Linked DNA regions of Homo sapiens. The protein of the gene in region 2 binds, or shares a complex with, the protein of the main gene of each other region. Each region holds a gene or a part of one and is shown on either strand. Other genes may lie near its edges.

The links. The genes of interacting proteins can lie anywhere in the genome.
Region 1: the proteins of EGFR (region 2) and EGF are in contact, whole or in part, in a crystal structure (PDB 3NJP), measured with the Homo sapiens proteins. Residues at the interface, in NP_005219.2 of Homo sapiens: Ser35, Asn36, Lys37, Leu38, Thr39, Gln40, Leu41, Gly42, Asp46, Arg53, Tyr69, Ala92, Leu93, Glu114, Leu122, Ser123, Tyr125, Asn152, Leu349, His370, Leu372, Pro373, Val374, Arg377, Asp379, Ser380, Phe381, Thr382, Leu406, Gln408; in NP_001954.2 of Homo sapiens: Ser979, His980, Asp981, Gly982, Tyr983, Leu985, His986, Met991, Ile993, Ala995, Leu996, Lys998, Ala1000, Cys1001, Asn1002, Cys1003, Val1005, Tyr1007, Ile1008, Gly1009, Glu1010, Arg1011, Gln1013, Tyr1014, Arg1015, Asp1016, Leu1017, Lys1018, Trp1019, Trp1020.

The regions. Positions count from the first base shown.
Region 1 is NC_000004.12:109,908,753-109,915,886, reverse strand, and holds the start of EGF (pro-epidermal growth factor isoform 1 preproprotein), read right to left. Parts: upstream 3,005-7,134; 5' UTR 2,552-3,004; coding exon 2,425-2,551; intron 1-2,424.
Region 2 is NC_000007.14:55,014,831-55,022,016, reverse strand, and holds the start of EGFR (epidermal growth factor receptor isoform a precursor), read right to left. Parts: upstream 3,001-7,186; 5' UTR 2,740-3,000; coding exon 2,652-2,739; intron 1-2,651. UniProt on the Homo sapiens protein: Receptor tyrosine kinase binding ligands of the EGF family and activating several signaling cascades to convert extracellular cues into appropriate cellular responses.

The DNA of each region.
Region 1 (7,134 bases), on a different chromosome or scaffold from region 2:
AAAGAAACCTAATTGTGTTGCTATCACTTGGTTTATCCGGCTAGCAGTCACATGAGTAACAATCTTGCATAAGTTTACCTGAATACTGTTAGACCATAAAGCATTCTTCCTGCTGGGTCAGGTGGCTGCAGAGGTGATCTGTCTCAATGCCAAGGGCAAGAAATAAGGCAAGTAGAATTTAAATGAGGGAAAAATAGATGATGGCACCATATCTATTTAGAGAGGAGAAAGAAATACTATCCTCTGAAATGCACACAGTGACTGACAAAGGGTGACCCAGGCAGTTATCAGCTAACATGAGACCAGGAGCGTAAAGTACGGGATTTAAACCAGTGACTTGCAAGAAATGAGGTAGCAGAGAGGCAGGGAATCCCAAAGTGCCATCCACACATTCCACACTCCATGGATCTGTGCCGTGTCACTGCACTGTTCAAATACGGCATCTCATCGTATGACTTGATCAGAGATTTAGCCAAGACGTGGAGCCCAGGAGGACATTTATTGAGCATACTCTGCTAAGCACCATGCTTTGGTACATGCTAGGTTATCTCATGTGATTCCCCACAAAAAAATCCTAAAAGCAGTGGGCGAGGGTATTATTTCCCAGAGATACTCTAAAGTAACTCAGCTATTAAGTTGGTAGCATGGATATGAAATGAGGCTTGTTTGTTTCTAAAACCTGTGGTTCCTTCCACTCTGTGACACAGTCTCCCCAACTTATTGTTTCTATCCTGGGTTTCATGTTTATTGGGTACAACCTACCTCAATGAAGGCACTTCTGAGCCACCAGAGGTGGCAAGGAAAACAAGGCATAGACTTGCTTGCCAGCAGGAATCAGACTATTCTGAGATCCTAGAGCCATCCATAAAAGCTCATTTTTGTAATTTCTTGGGTTCTGCTTCAGCAACCTGGGTTCTTCTTTCCTAGCTTCTGGCTGCCTGATAGATCGGCCCAACCATCACCCCTCACATCCCATGCAAATGACAGTGCCCAACTCTAGATATTTGCCAACTACTCCACGGAAAATTCTCCCACCCCAAAGAGAGTCCAGTCCATTTGACATAACTGTATACAGAAGTTTTACTTCTGTCTCCAACAGCTGAGTCTGAGGTTCATGGGGCCATTTTTGTCATTTGTCACCCTCTTTTTGTTGCTGTTCTCTAGGACTATGTCATTAGCAGATCAGAGAAAGACGCCTCATTCATACACAAGAATTTGCTGAGTACACACTGTGGAAGCAGGAATGTCCTAGGTGCTGGGAACATAGAGATCACTAGGATTAAGTCTTTATTTCAAATACCCTAGAGTTCTGCTCACCTGTTACAAGGAGTGCTACCTGAGAACAGAGTCCAGAGATTCTGAGCAAAAGCACCTGATTTCCTCATCGGGAACTTCCTTAATGGGAGAGCCAGGACAGCAGCCTAGCTTTGGCAGTTTGGCTCCATTCTGCTCTCTTTATTCAAACTATTGCCTATTGTGTACTGTCTTCCATAGGTGTCTCTTCTGGAAACTGTACTGTGTTTTCCCCCTCAATCTACCTCTTTTTAAAAGCCAGACGCCATCTCAAAAGGGCAAGCTGATAAAAATGGAATGTCGGGGCAGCTATAACCTCTCATCAACAAAGGCGGCTGCCGTGTCTAAGCAGCAGGTTGGAGGCTCACCCAAGGATTAAATAAATGAATTAACAGTTAGAGAGAGAATGTTTTTCAGGCAATATCCTTTGGCAGGATTGTAATTCGCATTCAGTCAAGCTCCCATTTCCCCTTGGCAAAAAATTCATTTAATATGAGAGGACAGTGTGGCTTATTTACCCATTATCATATTTGGCAGTTCTTAAAGTTGCAATGCACCTGTTACTAAAACTCCGGAGTTGTGTCAGAGCCTCAGAAACAGTAAGAGTGGGGAGAAAGTGAAGGAGGTTGAAATTGAAATTTAGGTTAATTTTCACAACTACCTTTGTTCACAGTTCCCTTTCCATTTTTCACTAATTTTTAGAACTTCTGAATTCTTACAAGTTATCAGAAGGAAGGATTTTTTTCTTTGTGGCTTAAGAGTTTCAAACAGACAAACAAAAAATCAACCATCTGTTTCCCTAATTTCCAAGCAATTAGCCAGGTGTTAATTACTCCTCTTGTCAGAGTAAAAGCTGAAGCTTCCATGAAATGTTCTGCTAGTTTAAAATGAGGCATATTCATTCACTTATACACAGAAGTACAGTTTGAGAGTTATGAAGTTTTATAGTTGGTAGCAGATTAGCTCTAATGGCCAGTAAGAAAATAAACATGCATCAGAAAACAAAAATTAAGCAACTATACATACCCAAAGACAAACTTTGTTAAATGCCCAAGTATACCAGATTGAACCAACAGGGATGTGGGGGCAGTTTCCCGGAGACCTGGAGCACCTTTTCATTGGAGTACTTACCCACACAAGTAGAATTCCCATTTCCTGCGAGAGTACCTTCAGGACAGCTCCAGTGCTGCGGTGCTGAGAGACTAACAAAACTAAATTTTGAAACTACTGGCAACAGAATGATAAGAGTGAGCAGCATAATCTTGATGAGTTTGAACTTTCAAAAGAAAACAGCTTGATTTTGCTGGAGCATGGCCCGGGCAAGGTGAGTATGATTGACCCCAGATGCGGCTGCCTGAGCGGAGGCCTCAGCCCTGGGGCATCTTTTACTCTCCTGTTGTGCTGTTGTCCTCCAAGCTCTTTCTTCAACTGAGAGACCTTCTGAATGCAGCCTGCCAAGGGAAGCCACAGGAAAGATTTCTTTATCTATGTTTCTTTGGAAGCCAGTAAGAAATACCTGACACCCTTATGACAAATTTCACAGAGTTTAACAGCCCTGCTCTGGCTGACTTCACTGTGACAGAGCAAGGCAAAGGCTTAGAGAGGAAAAAGAAAGGAAGAACTGATGGAAAGTTCCAGCTACAACCCTTGGATTGGGGCTGAAAGAAGAAATATGGAGATACGATTCCTCTCCCAACAGTTTCTCTTTTTGAAAAGTGGAATGACTCAGCTTTGCTTTTTAAAGCTCTTCAGGCTCCACCTCCTTTCCTTTAGTGACACTTGAGTGAGCCTCTGTTTGCAAATGCGAATGTGGGCAATTCCTCCACACAGGAAAGCAGGGATGACTGCCAAAGAGGAGATAACTCGCTACTCACCATAAATATCCTGGGCAGAACTGGGAGAGAGGAGTTGGGGGCTGTGGAGGTGCTCATGGTGAATGGCGGGAACTGCTAAATATTGGCTATGTTTTAATGTCTGGAAGGATGGAGACAAAATTAAACCATGCAGTATAAATCAATAATAAGCAGCACTGTTGATAGTTTGGATTGATAATAATTGATCATTCACATGAGCAATAGTAAAGATAGTTCACCTTCAGCCCATTATTTGAACGAAATGTCAATACCAGTGCACATTCCAGGAGCTTTATCTTATTTTTCTCTTTCTCCTGTATAGTTTATAGCGGAATTTGAAAGATTATTCTTTCCAAATCAAAGGGAAATCCCTGAGGCCAAATGAAGAGATACAGTATGGACAGACACCTTTTCTTTCAGCATGAGCATGATAAAACATCACGAGGGGCCAGGAGTGCAGAGAAAGGAGTGGATTGTTATTATAGGGACATTGGAAAAAATAAGCTAACAGTGCAAAGCTGGGAAGCACTGGAAATCCAGCACAGAGGAATGCTTTTCCTTCTAAGATAATTTAGGCTTTTTTTTTTTCACATCTCTGTGATAGAAAATAAGAACTGGACGTATCTGTTAGCTGTCTCCTCAACCACTTTCTACTTGGAGCAACAGTGGTTATTTCTTCAGGAGTACAACTAGGGCCCAAAAATACCCAGAAGGCAAACAACTTATAGCAGATTTGATGCACGATGGAAATTTCTGTCAGTTTACTCCATCCTGGAAAATGGACTTTCATTTAAGTTACCCTGAGGTAGTGTTCCAAGTGCTGGTCAAAAATGTACGTAAAAGCAATAGTCACAAAAACAACTGTCACACTAGTGAACACCCCATTACAGAGGAGAACAGACTAACTCTAAGCCTTTTACTCATACTTAATTATGTCCTGATTATTCTCCAAAGACTGGATCACTTTCCTGAAACAGCTTAAGTCAGGATTTCTCCTATTTCAGCCAGCCTCTGCCAGGCAGCTCTGAACCCTTACAGGAGAAACAGACCCTGGGGAAGGGGGAAAGAGAAGTCCTTTAGGTGGTTATGCGGAATATTCCATTGCTTTCTGGACTGAGTCAGACTCAAGACTCATAATGAGCATCCTACAAATAACCTGCACTGACTCTTCGAGTTACTAACTTTATTAATAAGCTTCCCTTTCAGCACAATACATTGCCAGCATCCCAGATGACAGCAATGGAAGGGGCTTAGAGGACAATCAAGCATCACGCTGTGTCAGTGGAGTGGAGTGGAGAGAATGATATGAAGACAAACATGAAATGATCCACAGCTCTGTTCTGTTTGGATTTGGAATCTCTCATATTATTTTTGGTTGGAAAAAGGTTTGCTTTCTTAATTACATGTCACCTGGGCTAATGTTGTCATTAATGTTGAGTACAAGCTCCCTAGGAGATGACGGAGTCAACAGAGGTATAGCAGATGCTATGGCTGATGACTGATGATGAAAATCAATCGCAGCTAATTCATCATCTACAGTTGCCCAGATAGCAAAATCATAGGACAGAGCTACCCAACTGGGAAGGATTTACAGAGATATTTAATAAGTTTATATTCCAGCCGGGCGTGGTGGCTCATGCCTGTAATCCCAGCACTTTGGGAGGCCAAGGTGGGCAGATCACACTTCAGGAGATCTAGACCATCCTGGCTAACACGGTGAAACCCCATCTCTACTAAAAATACAAAAAGTTAGCCAGGCGTGGTGGCACATGCCTATAGTCCCAGCTACTCATGAGGCTGAGGCAGGAGAATTGCTTGAACCCAGGAGGCGGAGGTTGCAGTGAGCCGATAACACGCCACTGCACTCCAGCCTGGGTGACAGAGCAAGACTCTATCTCAAAAAAATAAATAAATAAATAAATAATAAGTTTATGTTCCTACTTCTGGATAAAACTGAACCTTTCTTGCACTCAAGAAAGGTTGAAATAAACTCTTTATTTTAAAATTGATAAGAAATGCACTATAACTTATAGGTTTGAGCTGCCAAATATGATTTAATTTCTGGAATTGAGTTAAAGTTAACTAATTCATTCGTTAATTAAACAGCTATATATGATAGAGCACTGCCTGGAGTACAAGAAACAGAAGTCGTAGTCCTTAACATCAAGAGCTTGCTGAGGTTGATTAACAGCAACAACAGAGAGTATGAGTATGAGCTAATGAATGACCAGCCACCAAGTACATGACTGGTCACAAACTGGGTGTCAGGAAAGAAGGAGGGGAGCTGCAATGTACTTTGGACTACAGCATGCAGTGTGAAGCTCTGTGGAGTAATTAGGATGCCTCAGAAGGACATAGAGAAGGAGAAGGGTCATGCTGACAGGATGTGGAACAGGAATGGACAAAAATTTTTTTTCTTATTTAATAGTTCCTTAGATCCTGAAGGGACACAGCTGGGTGGGGGAAACCCTGCTGGTAGGTCAGTAAGAAAGTTAGACATTAATAGCAAGGAGATAGCTCTGAATGGTTATAAGTGTGAGTGGACAGCAATAGCTGGAAGGGACTATTGGGACATATGTTTATGTGTGCTTGTCATAAAATTCTAACTTTTCCGATGAAATTTCCTCATTGAAACACAGGGCACCTAGTTCTCCTGGGTTATGTATTTACTGTGCTCAGCACCTCTTACTAATCATTGCCACCGCCACACCATCAACAGATTACTTCCTTAATTACAGCATGTCTCCTCATCATTCTCCCAGGTATTTTAGTTTCTAAAAATGTAAAGGTTTAGGGAAAGAATTCTGGATTTCCCAAAACAATCTTTCCCTACCCTTCAGTTCTGCTCAACCTATGAGAAGTAGAGTACCATTAAATGAAGAGCACTTCAAGTGCTCTACAAGGCTTGACAAGAGAACTAAAGATACTGTAAAATGCATATAATGAAACACTACTTGCTGGAAGTAATGAAAATGCAAACCACTATTTGCAGCTCTTATTATATGTATAAAACTGTGAATCAGGCAGGGCACGGTGGCTCACGCCTGTAATCCCAACACTTTGGGAGGCTGAGGTGGGTGGATCACAAGGTCAGAAGTTCAAGACCAGCCTGGCCAATATGGTGAAACTCCATCTCTACTAAAAATACAAAACAAAACAAAAAACTGTGAATTAGTATCCTCTTTGCTTGCCACTCAAAACTGGAAAGATGTATAAAATAGATGGTGGAGAGAAAATATTTGAGTTGGTGACATATGGATTATTTCAATTTTAAATACCAGAGAAACAAAATAAATTAAGTTGCTTTCCTTTGGTTTTCCCAGCCTGATTTCTAATTAAGATGCATTCTTTTTCATTTTCATTAAAGTAAAATTTATATAAAGTGAACAGATCTTAAGTGTACAATCTGATGAGTTGTGATAAATGTATATATACACTTCATCAATACCTCAAACTGTCTTTTAAAAAACACCATTTTTGGTAGAAATTTCCAAGCATAGAACATTTCCTTTACCGTCAAAATTTTCCATATACTCCTTCCAGTGAATCCCGCTCATAGGTAACCATTGTTCTTCTTTCTCTCATCATAGATAAGTTTTGTCTGTTCTTGAACTTTATATAAAGGCAATCATACAGCACGTTTAACTTTGGGTCTTGCTTCTTTTGTTTAACATAATGTTTTTGAGACTCTTGTAGGTTGTGCATATCAGTACTTTATTCTTTTTTATTGCTGGGAAGTATTTTTGTATGAATATAGTACAATTTGTTTATCTATTCTCTTGTTCATGAACCTTTGGATTGTTTCCAGGTTTGGCTCAATGAATGTTTTCATTTCTCAACATTTAATACCTAATTACTAGTTCATAGGGTAGATATATGTTTAACTTCATAAGTAACTGCCAAATATTTTTCCAAAGTGGCTGTTCCATTTTATACTCTCTCCAGCAATATATGTGAGATCCATTTTTCCATGTCTTCACCCACATTT
Region 2 (7,186 bases):
CAGCTCTGACATTAGACATTTGCACACACCTGATTTGGATCTCCTGAAACCAGAACTCGGACAAGGCAGTGGAGTTTGGAAGTTGAGAGAGGGATCTGGAGTTGGAAGCCCCTGGTGTGAATTTCCCGTCTGCCTCCCACCAGCTGTGGGAAAGTCACTTTAGTTCTTCGTACCTCAGTTTCCCCCATAGGAGGAGAGTGTGCACCTCTTATGCTTAATGTGGGGATTAGGACTCATGAAATGGTGTCTGGCAGTCATTACCTCTAAGAGCAGCAAGTCTAGAAGTTAGCATGTCCCAGAACCAAACAAAACTCCCACTAAACAAAGTGCATCTTGAATAAAATCCACTGAATTTGATAGACACAGGCCTTAAACAAATTTCTGTTAAAAGAGCTCATCTCCTATTTTAATAATTTGCCCCTGAAAATCCAGTCTTTTATGTTACTGTAATGGAATAGCGTCTGTTCTCCTACTCTCTCTCTTGTCTTCAGGAGCATTCTGTTTTGAGTGAATGCGGGACAAACAGGCAAATTAAGTGGTATTTATATTTTTCTCAGGAACAAATCTCCAACTACTAATAGTGGTGTTCAAACAAGTAACATCAAAGAATGAGAACACCAATGGAGGGAGAAAAGTGATGCTTTGGTGGTGCTCTGAGGGTTTAATTTAAAATAAAGAGAAGAGTCTCTTCGGCAGAGACAGGGCTGACACCTGACTAACAGGACCGGCAGTCAGCAGTCTCCGGAGCAGGCCCGCGTCTCCCGGGCACCCCAGGCAGGCAGGACGGGCCTGCAGGCTCAGCAGAGAAGAAACCTTTCCACCAGTTCCTTCAATGAAAAGCGGAATCCTTTATTATTGGAATCACACTCTACCTTTTCCCTCTTTCCTATATTTGGCAATATTGTAACAATTCCAGATGTCCTCAAAGAGCTCTTAGCATTGGCAAGTAACATCTCCGGAGACTTTAACAATCCTTCTTCCGTCTAGTGATCCCCAAATCTGGCTGCCCAACAGATCACATGAAGAGCATTAAAAAAAATCCCAAGTCCAGGTCTTGCCCCATGCCAATTAAATCAGAATGTCTGGGGGCGGGAGCCAGACACTGGTTTTTGTTTTGATTTTTTTTTTTTTAATCCCAGGTAATTCCAATGTGCAGCAAGGTCTGGGAACCACTGTTCTATGCCTTGCCCCTCCCCCAACGACCGCGCTGGGCACCAAACCCCAACTCCCCAAGCCAATGACATCAACAGCAAGTACGGGCCTGGCTCTTGGAACCCGCGCAGCTCAAGGTTGGAATTGTGCAATTAAACCTTCCAAGGCATGTTTCCCCTGTCAAGTGGGTTTATGGTCGGTAGTCACGAAGCCAGACTCGCTCATGTTCTGTCTGCACACTTGGCACACTTGAACCAGGGACAGCAATCCGGTGTGTGTGTGTGTGTGTGTGTGTGTGTGTGTGTAAGACAGGTTTAATATTTTGGTTGGCTCAAATTCTTCAAACAGCAAAAAGAGACATCCAAGAAAGAAAGTCTCCGGGTTTTGAGGAGAAGTTTGCTGTGAGCCCCATTTTGAAACACCATGGTGTTGGCCAGGATGAGCTCTGCTTCCGGGGCTTCCGCTCAAGAGTCCCGCGATCCCCCCCTGCAGTGGCCGGACAGCCGCGTCCCGCTCCACCGCGAAGCCCAGGCGCGACCGAAGGGCTGCAGGTGGAGCAGACCCGGACGTCTCCGCGAGGCGGCCATCGAAGGAGAGCCTGGGGCTTTCGGCGCGGGCGCCCAGGAGGGAGCTGGGGTCCCCGGGAGGTGGGGGGCACTCTTGGATAGGCAAGACGAGGGCGCACCGGGCGAGGCGAGCGGCCGGGGTCTGCGCCCAAGGGGCGGGTCGGACCCCACCTGCCTTTTGCCAACGAGGAAACTAACCGCCGCCAGCACCACCCCTCCCCGGGAGCCGCAGGTGGTGGTAGACGAGTTCTCCCAGCTCCCAGGTCGAGGCTGCGACTCCACACTGGGGAACGAGGATCGCGGGGACCTGGAGAGGGGCCGGGGCCAGGCTGGCGGGCGCCGGCTTCAGTTTGAGACCTGCGCGGAGGGCGGAGGCGGGGAGGTCCTCTCAGAAAGCCGCCTGTCCCGCGGGGTCCGAGGGGAGGCTGTATTTTTGGGTTCCTTCCTCAGCTTCCCTAAACAGTGCAGTCTCGGCGGGTGGGCAGCGCCCGCCCCTCGGGTGCGCGCCAGGACCCCGTCGCGCCCTGGGAAGACAGCGCGGGGCGCACGTGCGGGACCCCGGCCCCAGGCGCCCACCAGCACCCGGCTTTCGCCCACTGACGCCGATCCTGCGCAGCTGGGCGGGGAAAGTGAGGGAAGAAAGTTGGGAGCGGTTCGGGGCGCCGGAGGTCCCGGCGGCCGTTCCCCGCCTGGCCTGCAGCCCGGTGTCCCACGCGTCTCCTCCTCCGCCCGCCCCAGACTCTCCCGGCCGAAGAACGAAACGTCCCGTTCCTCCCGCGGTCCCGGTCGGCGGCGCAGCTGATCTCAAGGAAACAGGAAAGGACGGGCGGGGGCGCGGGCGCCGAGCCGGTGCGCCGGTGCGCGGTTGGGCGGGCTGCGGGGTCCGGGGCGCGATCCGGGGGCGGCGCGGGAGCCGGCGAGACACGCCCTTACCTTTCTTTTCCTCCAGAGCCCGACTCGCCGGGCAGAGCGCAGCCAGCAGCGCCAGGAGCGCTGCCCCGGCCGTCCCGGAGGGTCGCATCGCTGCTCCCCGAAGAGCTCGCTCCGGCTCTCCCGATCAATACTGGACGGAGTCAGGGGGCCGTGCGCGGTGGTTGTGGCGTTGGCGGCGAGGCGGGGACTCGGGCGGACGCCGACGAGGTGGCCTGTCGTCCGGTCTGGGCGGCGGCGGCCGCCGGGGCTAGCTCGGGACTCCGGCCGCCTCGGCCGCGTCGGGCGCTCACACCGTGCGGGGGGCGGAGGCTGCTGCGGCCGCGCTGCGCCGGGGGCTGCCCGGACGTCTAGCTCGCGCGGGCCGAGGCGCGGGGAGGCAGGGCGGGAGGAGGAGGGACCAGGCGGCGGAGGAGGGATCGGGAGGAGCAGAGGAGGAGGAGAATGCGAGGAGGAGGGAGGAGAACCAGCAGCGGGGACCCAAGGCCAGCGGCCGCCGGAGGCGGTGGACAGCGGTGGCCCCCGCGGGACCTAGTCTCCGGCGGGAGTGGGGCGGCGCATGGGAGGGGAGCGGGTGCCCTGAGGAGTTAATTTCCGAGAGGGGCGTTCCCAGCACTGCCCCTCTGGACCCGGTCCCCGCGGACTTGCAGGCCCAGCCTATGTCCAGGTCGAGCCAAATCTGTGCCAGGGTCCCCTTCCCCCTTTCCCTTCTTTTGTTTTACAAAGCAAACTTGTACCAGCTTTAGACAGACTGGCCGAGCCTTAGAGCCAGCGTCGGATAATGGCACCGACGGGGAAACTGCTCCTTTATTCGGGTCCCCACCTCCCCTGCAGCACTACGGGACCCTCTCGGGGATCAGAGGCTGGCCTGGCAGCTGAGGAGGTCGCCGTGCCCGCGCGGCAGGGGTGCCAGGCGTCCGAGGTGGTGCTCTAAAGTCCGAGGGTCCTTCAGATCTTGTCAAGCACCCTCGAAATCATCTGAAATGAGGGCACCCAACTCCGGGTGCAGAGACAGGCCTCCTTAATGTTTATTGCAACCAGCCATGGGTACTTTGAAGCCAATGTGTGAAGCACATTACTTCGCAAAAGTGAAGCTCTTGGAATAAAGGCTTGACACAAACAGCCGTGGAGGTGCTTTTAGAGAGGCTAAGTGTCCCACTGCCCCTGTAGCTCCCGCAGGAGAAATGCCAGGGAAACTCGCGGAAGCTTTGGCCAAAAGAAACTGAGCTTTTTTGGGCTGCAGGAACTTGAGCTATATTCCTTTGGCAAGTCCACCCCATCCCCACTGTTCCTTCTCCTGCAGTAAAAATGTCCTCTAGGTCCATGTTACAGCCAGACCCCTCCTCTCTTCACGAGATTCACTAGGACCTTCAGGCCTGGTTCAACAACCCTGATCTCTCGGCTCTGTCAAAAATCACAATCCTGAAGTAAGTGAAGCTACAGACCTGCCCTTTGCTGTCTCTGAAGGGGAGCAACCTTACATCTTTCCTCCTCATCCAGCAAAATGTTTGTGCCTGGGTCTCGCACCCTGCAGCCTGAACGGTGGGGTTTTTCACCAGGGCAAGCGCAGACAGACACAGGTCTGCTCACTGCCCGCACAACCTGGAACTTCCCTGTGAATTAGGAGAAGTAATCTGTTCCTTTGTTTTAACAAATCAGTACAGCCACTGTGCGTTGAAGTCATGCCCTGAATGCAGAGGCCATGAAGGCTCTGCAGGCATGTGTGTGCTTCCTGCACACCTGGGCTGAGAGCAGTCCGTAGAAACACAGAAAACAAAACTAGAGAAAGGCAAATGGGAAGCACAACAGTGGAACATAAAATGAAGACAGGAGTGAGTCTTACAATAAAAGACCTGAATACAATAAAGTCCTGTGCATTCACTTAACAAGGGCTGCAAATTTGGTTTTAAACTATATTTTCTGTCAAGGGAATGTGACCTGTGTGTACAAGTCACAACACAAATCAATTTAAGCTACAACTGATTTGTAAGACTGTACAGGAATTTCTTTGAGTGCCCAAAAAGACAGCATGTAAGAACATCAGTTCTCACTACGTTAGGACTATATGAGACAACAGCCTTCATAGTACGGCTTGTATATTCTTCAATGTGATCTGATAGCATCACAAGAAACAGAGCTTTTTGTAAAGAATTACTAGACACACACATAGCACAATACTGGGATGGATTCCAGGGAACAGAGAAGAATGGGTTTGCTGAACATCTTCATGGGACATCTATGTAAAGTTTGAGTTTCTCCTTTGAGCTTTTGATACAAAAGCTGACATTCACGTTGATTTTGTAGTCCTTGGCTAGTACCTGGAGTGTGCTGATAACTGTGTTACTTGGTAAGTAAAAAACTGTATGGCCGAGCAGGCACTAATGAAGTCCTCTTAAGAGAGATAAGTAGCCTGGCATAGTTAGGGCCCTGCACAGTTAGGGCTCTAGCTCACAGCCTCTGTGGAGGGTGGTCCTAGACCATGGCCCGGACAGAGGCTGGGTGTGTGTGCCACCACCACAGGAATGACAATAGTGGCCCAGTTGCTGTGTTAAGCATTGGTCAGACTAAGCTTATCTGATAACCTGTGAGCTGGTTAATACTTGTATCTGCCTTTTATAGCAATGTGATGCTGTGGCCGGGAGAAGTGACCAGGATACCAAGGTATACTTGCTAGTATGAGAGGCCAACTTTGAATCCAAGGCAGAGCCGTGTTTTACCCCTCTTGTCCAGCAACGCTTCAAAACCTGAGACAAATGGTGATGTCAGGACCTAAAATTCTATTTCATAATGTCTTGGAAATTTGTTAGGGTGAGTAATACCAAAATTTCTGCTTGGCCAAAAAAATTATAGATAAAGCCTTCATGTATGCTATATTAGCAAGTATGTACTAAGACTCTAGTATTTCCCTTAATAAATCTCATAAGCGTCTGTCAATTTTAATAACACAGATGGTTCCATCCCTTTGCCAGCTGTACATGAGAAACTTTTTTCCTCTGATGAGTGGTTATCCTCTTAGAAGAAGTTTCTGAGTATGTTGAATAAGAGTTTAGTCTTGTCTATAAGGAATGTGGCTCTGAATTTCCTAAAACCAAATGCTCTGTGAAAGGGGAGGAGAAACACGTTATTTGGCAGGGTGAAGATCTGAGGTCTTCAAATATTCTAAGTTCCATCTTAGGCAAAAGGCATTTGACCACCTGTTTTCTCTGGCTTAGAGGTCAAAGTAAAGATTGATTAGGAAAAAAAAACATAGTGGCAGATTTTAGACTTTCAAAAATATGTTTTATAAGTTATTGGAGCTAAGTAAAAGTAGAATAAGCTATGTCAGAGTGGAAAGGGCTTTTTTGAGAAAGATTTTTGTGCAAGAACAATAAGTACTAATGGAGGTTGTGAATTAAGGACTGACACAGGTTCCTTCCAACCCTAAAGTTCCTTAAGAAAATGCACTTCTAAAATAGGTTTTCACTTAAACATGTGTTCACTTGACAGCTCTTCTAAGGATATATGTTAAGGAGATACAAGAATCTGGTAACAGCTTTGCCTCTAGGGAGGAGAACTAGGTAGCTCGGGGTCAGGGGTTTAGAGGGAGACTTGTTTTTCAATTTGTCCTTCTGTACCATTGGGATTTTGTACCAGGAGCATGCCTCACCTATTTCTGCAAGGTAAGTGTGGCCCCTGCTGAGGTTCAGGGACACTCCTGGGGGCAGGCTTTCATGGTTTCTGAGACTGTTTATTCCTTCTCCTTGAAGGAAGTCATTTGCCTTGAGCTCTGAGTTGAGACCCATCTCTTGCAGAATGTGGAAGAAGCAGCTTTTTCAAGGGGTAATGTGCTGACAGAAAACTGCTGAAGCATTTCTCCTTTGTCATTAGTATGCTTCATCATCTCTAGAGTTGAGGGTTACATGTCACTATAGGAGGCACTATTGGCGCTCCATTCTAGCAACAAGTAGAAAGCTGAGCAAACCGAAAAATTAACACCTCTTCTTAGCTCTTTCAGAGAATTGAGGTCATTGGGCAAACCACTGCCCCCCAAATTGGAGAGACAGGCAAACACAGAAGCACAACCTCCAGAGGAAGAAACCAGCAGACAGAAACCTCCAAGGACCCAGTGCCGGCTGGGAAAGTTTGCCCTGTAATTGAGAAATTGCGGGAGGCTCAGTGTGGGCAGTTCTGCAAATTAAGAACTCCAGCAGAGCCCAGTCATGGTGCAGGGTAGTATGAGACACTTGAGAGTGTTACCTCCTGGAGCTCTGCTAGGTCCTTACCACGAATATTAGGGGGAAAATCTCATTATGCTTCTGGCAGTGGAAGGAGAAGAGGAACCATTTTGAAATAGGTTGGAACATTCTATTATTAATAGAAGGTCTGCCCTCAGGAGAAATTATTTCACCAGAGGCCTAACCTGGTGTTTTATCAGAGGGTGACCTACCCAGAGCAAGGGAAATATACAACTCCACCCCCCTCCAACAGTTCTGTACCATCTAAGGGGCTGGGGAAGCTGAGAAGCAAGCATGAAGTTCACAGTCCAGGGACACAGGCTC